2 separate regions of the Homo sapiens genome follow, and region 2 is linked to region 1. The links come from fine-mapping of genetic effects on gene expression. A gene starts in region 1. The other region holds a variant in brackets. All regions are shown on one strand. Distances are from middle to middle.

Region 1 (2,918 bases):
AAGCTTTTGCGCAGACTGGAAGCTGAATCAGGCGTCTGCTGGGATACAATCAGAGACCAGCAGCTAACCTCAGGGCTTTCAGAAAATAACGGCAATCAGGTAGAAACAGAGTCTCGAGGAGGGTAATTGCCAGCTAGGATTCCTCAAGGGCTCCACTCTCTATCTTACACGTGAACTCTATCTTTCTCTGGGTCATGGGGTCACAACCAATTAAGACTTTCCGAGTGACAAGCTGGGAATCACCGTGTTGCAGTTACAGCAAGTGTTATTGCCAACTTTGCCAATAGTGTGTGTGTGGTTTGTGTGTGTGTGTATTCCTCTCTGTACTTTAATCTTATTTTCATATGTGAACACTAAAGAGATTGGACAAGAGATAACGTTTATCTTGAAATCTCACTCTCAGTAAGATGGTACCAGTATCGCACACACACACACTCGCACACACGCACATCACCTGCAGCCGCAGAACCTTGCACCCTTGGGCTGGCTCGCGTCTTAGGGTTTTGGTATATTTGGTGGAAACTTGCTGATTTCCTATGCCTTTTGGAAAGACCAAGCTGGATGAGGGTGGTTGGAACGCTGTGGCTCATCATTTATTCATTGCGACTGTTTTGATTGTTGACACTAGTGGCAAGCCGCATCCTCCAGCTCTTGCAAGGGAAGTCTGACACCTTGAGGACAGGAGAGGGGGTGCCAGTCGCCCAGAGAAGCGGGAGTGGGAGAAGCTTTGAGAGTTGCAGGGGACTACTTTTTTCCGGTCGGGCGGCGGGCCTCATGGGTGCTTGTTTACCGGGCTGGGAGCAGGGCATTCAAAAGCTGGGTGTCGGAGCGCACTGAAGTCCAACACGCCTGCAGAGACCGCCCTAAGCCTGGAGGTGTGTCTGGCTTGCATCCAGAACCACAGGGTGGATTCTCGCCACCGACTTGGCTGGATGACGGCTGGCTGGTGGTGAGCTCCCCTGCCCACTGGCTGACCTCAAGCAGTTGGCCCCGGTAGGTGGAGGCTATTCGAGGGGGACAAGCTGGGGACGCAGCGTCAGCTCCTGCCAGCGCGCGGGTCTCCTCCACCTCCAAGCAGTGTGGTGCGTGGGACGCGCATCTTCCCGGACTATCCCTTTCCAGCGCGGTCTGTGCGGACCCCGAGCCCGGCAGCCACCAGGGACGGAGGGCGGGGTGCCTTTCTCTGGGCTCATCCGCTGTCAGCCGTGGGAACTCTTAACTTTATCCAGAGGGATCTGTGCAGGCGGGGGTGGGAGAGGTTCTCCTCCCCTGGCGGTTACCTCCCCCTCCCGGGCCGCCCCTCCCCCGCCTCCCATGGCTTCGCTTTCAGAGCATCCTCACTCCGCCCAGTTCGGTGCCAGCTGCGTGGGCTCCAGCTTCGATCGTTTTCCTTGGAATGCTCCAAAACTCAGCAGCGACTAAGGGAATTCCATTGGAATTTGCCGGGCGTGCTCTCACCCCGCACGGCACCCGCGCCGTCAGTCCTCGGATCCCATCACTTCAGCCCGAAGATTGCAACTTTGCAGGTAAAGAGGATGTCGCCTCGGGGCTCCGTTCGACCGGAGCTACACCTCGCCTTCTTTCTGGGATCTCGGTTAAGTTTCCTAAGCTGCCTGGGAAGCCGGCTCTCTTCTGGGAGGCGGACATCCCTGCGGGGTTAGGAGTTCAAAAGGTTCTGGCTATGTGGTTTCTCTTCAAGGCTCAGGAAAAAAACCTGTGAAGCTTTCGGTGCTTGACTCGGGCTGAGCAGGAGTTTGGGGGTGCTCCTCAGTCTTCCGCCGCACTCGGCTTTAAAGCAGGGGAGAGGGCGAGGAGTGAACCCCCGGTGTGACTTATATGGTAAACAAAGGAGCTGCAGCCACGCCGTGGTGCTGGGGAATGTGGCCGTTTTTAGCCTTTTATGCATTTGGGGAAAATGGAGATCTCGGGGGCATCTGGGTGCATATAAGTGAGGCCTTAGCTCTCCGGCACTTAAAGTAGGGTAACGAAGGAAGGAGAGTGATCAATGTTCTACCGATCGATTACATTCTGCGTCGTTTTCATTCTCTGTCAAGAAACAGAAACACTTTTATCCGTGTTGCCCGACCCAGGCTAGTGATTCCTAGTTCGCCTGGCAACCGAGATTCCAATGAAGCCAATGAAGCCAATGACCCGGTTTGCTACTTGGTTAAATCACTGGGATTCACTGCACAACTTGTTGTTCCAGCTGTGAAGTCAGCTGTCTTTTGCGACTAGAGACAAGAGAATACTGGAAAGGCATCGAGGGTTTAGGAGAGCTGAGGAAAGGGATCTCTTATCTTGTCTGCCTGCATTCACTATGGTGTATCCACTATGGTGTATCCCTGTTCACATGGCTTCTTAGAGAGGCCCTTCCCAGTGAAATTCCATAGCTATAAAATGCAGCAAGTTGCTTAAGGAGTAAGCACCAAGCCAAAGGAGTAGGAAGAGACAGAAGGAAGCTTTAGTTGTTTTATTAAAAAAAAAAATAGACAGACTTGTAAAACTTTTTCAGTTTTAATAAAACACCGCCTCTCAGAGCTCATATAATTTCTGCCTTTCCTTTCACAGTACATAATCACAGCACAAAGAATATTACAAATTCTTTAAGCAAAAGGTTTACTGGAGGGTTTTTTGGTTTGGGGTGTTTTTGGTAAAACTCTAAATTAGACATTGAGAGTAAGAGTGGGTGGAGATGTTAAAATGTTGAAATCTTCATCATTGTGTTGGGTTTGCTATTTAAAGTTACATTTGTAGCGCCTACTTTCTTATTCACCTGGACACTATTGTCCAGAAAACATCCTCCTTAAATGTTTAAGGGGGGAAAAAAAACAATAAGATCAATTTCAATTTACTTGCTCACTGGTCATTCTGAAAGATATATGAGTTGGAATAGATTTTCATTACTTATAACCTTTAAA
Region 2 (2,918 bases), 180 kb after region 1:
ATCTGAGAAATACTGAGAAAAAAAGAGATATTGAGAAAAAAATCCTGGACCAGATATTCAAACATCTCATAATTTGATAGATATGTAACCTTAACATACAGTAAGTAGTGTCCATGCTACATCACAAAAATGTTGTCAGGATAGAATGATGCCATGTCTGTGAAATGTTTTGTATAAGGCAATTAGGTATACTTAGGTAAGGTGTTTGCATTGTTTATACCGAATTAAGCTATGATGATTAACATTCTGGTGAATACTACTTTCTTTCATCTGTTTTTCATATTGCCTCAACCCAATTAAAAGTATATTTAGCTTGTACCTCATAAAGAAAAGTTCATTTGCTTTTCCTGATGATGAAAGTAATAAATATCTATTATAGAAAATTGTTAAAAGTACACACAAATATAAAAATAAAAATTAAGTGTAATGTTGTAACCAAGAGATAACAACTATATCAAAAAAGAGCCACACTTATATATTCTTATATATGTGTATATAGGTGTGTATCTTTATAAACTGCTTTGTTCACTTATCAGCGTATCTTTTGCATATTCGTATTCCCCAGTTCTATTTTTGCTTCCTCAAGTGCAGCCACAGTATTTTGACTTCAGTTATGTCTCACTAAGCATGTCATACTGTGCCTTGGGTAGAATAAATATTCAATACATTGGCTTTATTCACAGAATGACTTAAAGCCTTTTGATTGTTTAAATGTAAAATTATGTGAAACAGAATTTCTGTCTTTAAAGATCACAATTGTGTTCTTATTGATGAATTGAGGCCACTCCATGTAACTGTGACTTATTTTTCCTTTTCCTTTCCCTTCTGTTTAGTTTGTTGCCCAGCCCAATTGTCAACAGCTGCTGGCATCTCGCTGGTACGATGAGTTTCCAGGCTGGAGGAGAAGACACTGGGCAGTGAAGATGGTGACATGTTTCATAATAGGACTTCTTTTTCCTGTCTTCTCTGTGTGCTACCTGATAGCTCCCAAAAGCCCACTTGGACTGTTCATCAGGAAGCCATTTATCAAGTTTATCTGCCACACAGCCTCCTATTTGACTTTTTTGTTCCTGCTGCTGCTTGCCTCTCAGCACATCGACAGGTCAGACTTGAACAGGCAAGGTCCACCACCAACCATCGTCGAGTGGATGATATTACCGTGGGTCCTGGGTAAATGTGTTACTATAGAAAATATAATAAAAACATGTTACTGCCACGGAATTTCGTTGCTCAGAAAATATTCATTAATGTTTGGGACCTAGGAATGTTTAGAATAGGTTCTGACTATTGTAGCTCCAAGAACCTCACCCCCAAAGCCAAACAACTATTTTACAAGCTGCGGTGGACCCGCTTACAAAATCAGCTTAAGAAACGTAACCTTAAATTTTAGAATTACAGATTTTAATGACTTCATATTCCACGACTGACCCTCTGAGTTTTTTGTTTATTAAAACTTTTCAACATATCTCATTGACTATATGTAAATAATCATTCTAATATTCCTAATAGATAAGTCTTCTAAAAGTACATGCAGATTACTCTGAAGAATTAGTGATTCTATACATAAAGTAACTGAAACCTTTTGAAAAAATCAATCCATTCAAATTTATCTTTGAAATCTATATTAATTTAAAATAACAGGAAATTAAACAACAGGATATCCGCCACTCTCTTTTTGTTCTTGTCATAGAAAGTTGTATTGGGTCTGAAGCAAATCACTGTGAAGTAGAAAACCTTAAAGTAGCTAGTGAAAATCTTGTTTTCCC[G/A]CCGGGTGCAGTGGCTCATGCCTGTAATCCCAGCACTTTGGGAGGCCGAGGCGGGCGGATCACGAGGTCAGGAGATCGTAGCCATCCTAGCTAACACGGTGAAACCCCGTCTCTACTAAAAATTCAAAAAGAAATTAGCCGGGCGTGGTGGCGGGCGCCTGTAGTCCCAGCTACTCGGGAGGCTGAGGCAGGAGAATGACGTGAACCCGGGAGGCGGAGCTTGCAGTGATCCCAGATCACGCCACTGTAGTCCAGCCTGGGCGACAGAGTGAGACTCTGTCTCAAAAAAAAAGAAAGGAAAAAAATGTAGCTAGTGAAAACCTTGTTTTCCTTTCTCCTTGTTATTATAGCCATGGTTAAAATTTGCATTTTAATTATCCTTTTCTCTATCATACTATGGTTTGCTGAGAAATCACATTTTCTCAATTTAGCTCATTATTTTAAACCTCTCTGCTATAATATCTATCTCATCATTTGGCTATTAGAAAATATGTGACAAATTTCATGATTCAAAATCTCAGAATATCAGTTTGGGTTAACTCTCAAAACTGCTGAAGAAACTAAAATGACATCAAGGCAGAAAAAAAAAAGACAGCCTATTTGAGATAAATATGTTTTTCAGTTTTAAAAATTATAAAAACCATACTTTAAGTATTGTCAATAAGAAAAGTTAATAGGGACAAGATTTGATGTTTTACTTATATAACTAAACAAAATCCTCAGGTGAACTTTAAAATAGAGTAGGTTCTCATTAATCTAAAGTGGGTAAAATGTGATCTTGTTTAAATTAGAAAAAAGGGTCAGGCCGGGCAGGACACAGTGACTCATGCCTGTAATCCCAGCACTTTGGGAAGCCAAAGCGGGCGGATCGCTTGAGATCAGGAGTTGGAGTATCACCCATCTCTACTAAAAATGTGAAAATTAGCTGGGCATGGTGGCCACAGCCTGTAATCCCAGCTACCTGGGATGCTGAGGCAGGAGAATAGTTTGAGCCTGGGAGGCAGAGGTTGCGGTGAACCAAGATTACACCACTGCACTCCAGCCTGGGTGACAAAGTGAGACTCTGCCTCAAAAAATGAAAGAAAAGAAGAAAAATTAAAAAGGCTCACATAATCTATAAGTGTCCGAAGTGTCCTTTGGAATAAAATAATT

Direction of the effects. Alleles are on the strand shown, and positions count from the first base shown. SD is a standard deviation of normalised expression in the study named.
With allele G in place of A in region 2, the expression in lung of the gene that starts at base 1,349 in region 1 is higher (small effect, 0.21 SD a copy in GTEx).

Evidence for each region. PIP is the estimated chance that this variant, and not a neighbour inherited with it, causes the effect.
Region 2: its variant is the best candidate, but not a certain one, in a credible set for the expression of TRPC4 in lung (GTEx, PIP 0.64).

The regions. Positions count from the first base shown.
Region 1 is chr13:37,868,203-37,871,120 of GRCh38, reverse strand. TRPC4 (transient receptor potential cation channel subfamily C member 4) reads left to right here and starts at 1,349. Exons shown (of 11, transcript NM_016179.4): 1 at 1,349-1,526. It overlaps LOC124903160 (a long non-coding RNA gene), which reads right to left and starts at 1,978. Exons shown (of 2, transcript XR_007063762.1): 1 at 455-1,978.
Region 2 is chr13:37,690,251-37,693,168 of GRCh38, reverse strand. It overlaps TRPC4 (transient receptor potential cation channel subfamily C member 4), which reads left to right. Exons shown (of 11, transcript NM_016179.4): 4 at 834-1,170. Among named protein-coding and RNA genes, the nearest start is that of POSTN, 93 kb to the right of the region's middle. The variant G/A (reference allele first, on the strand shown) is at 1,767.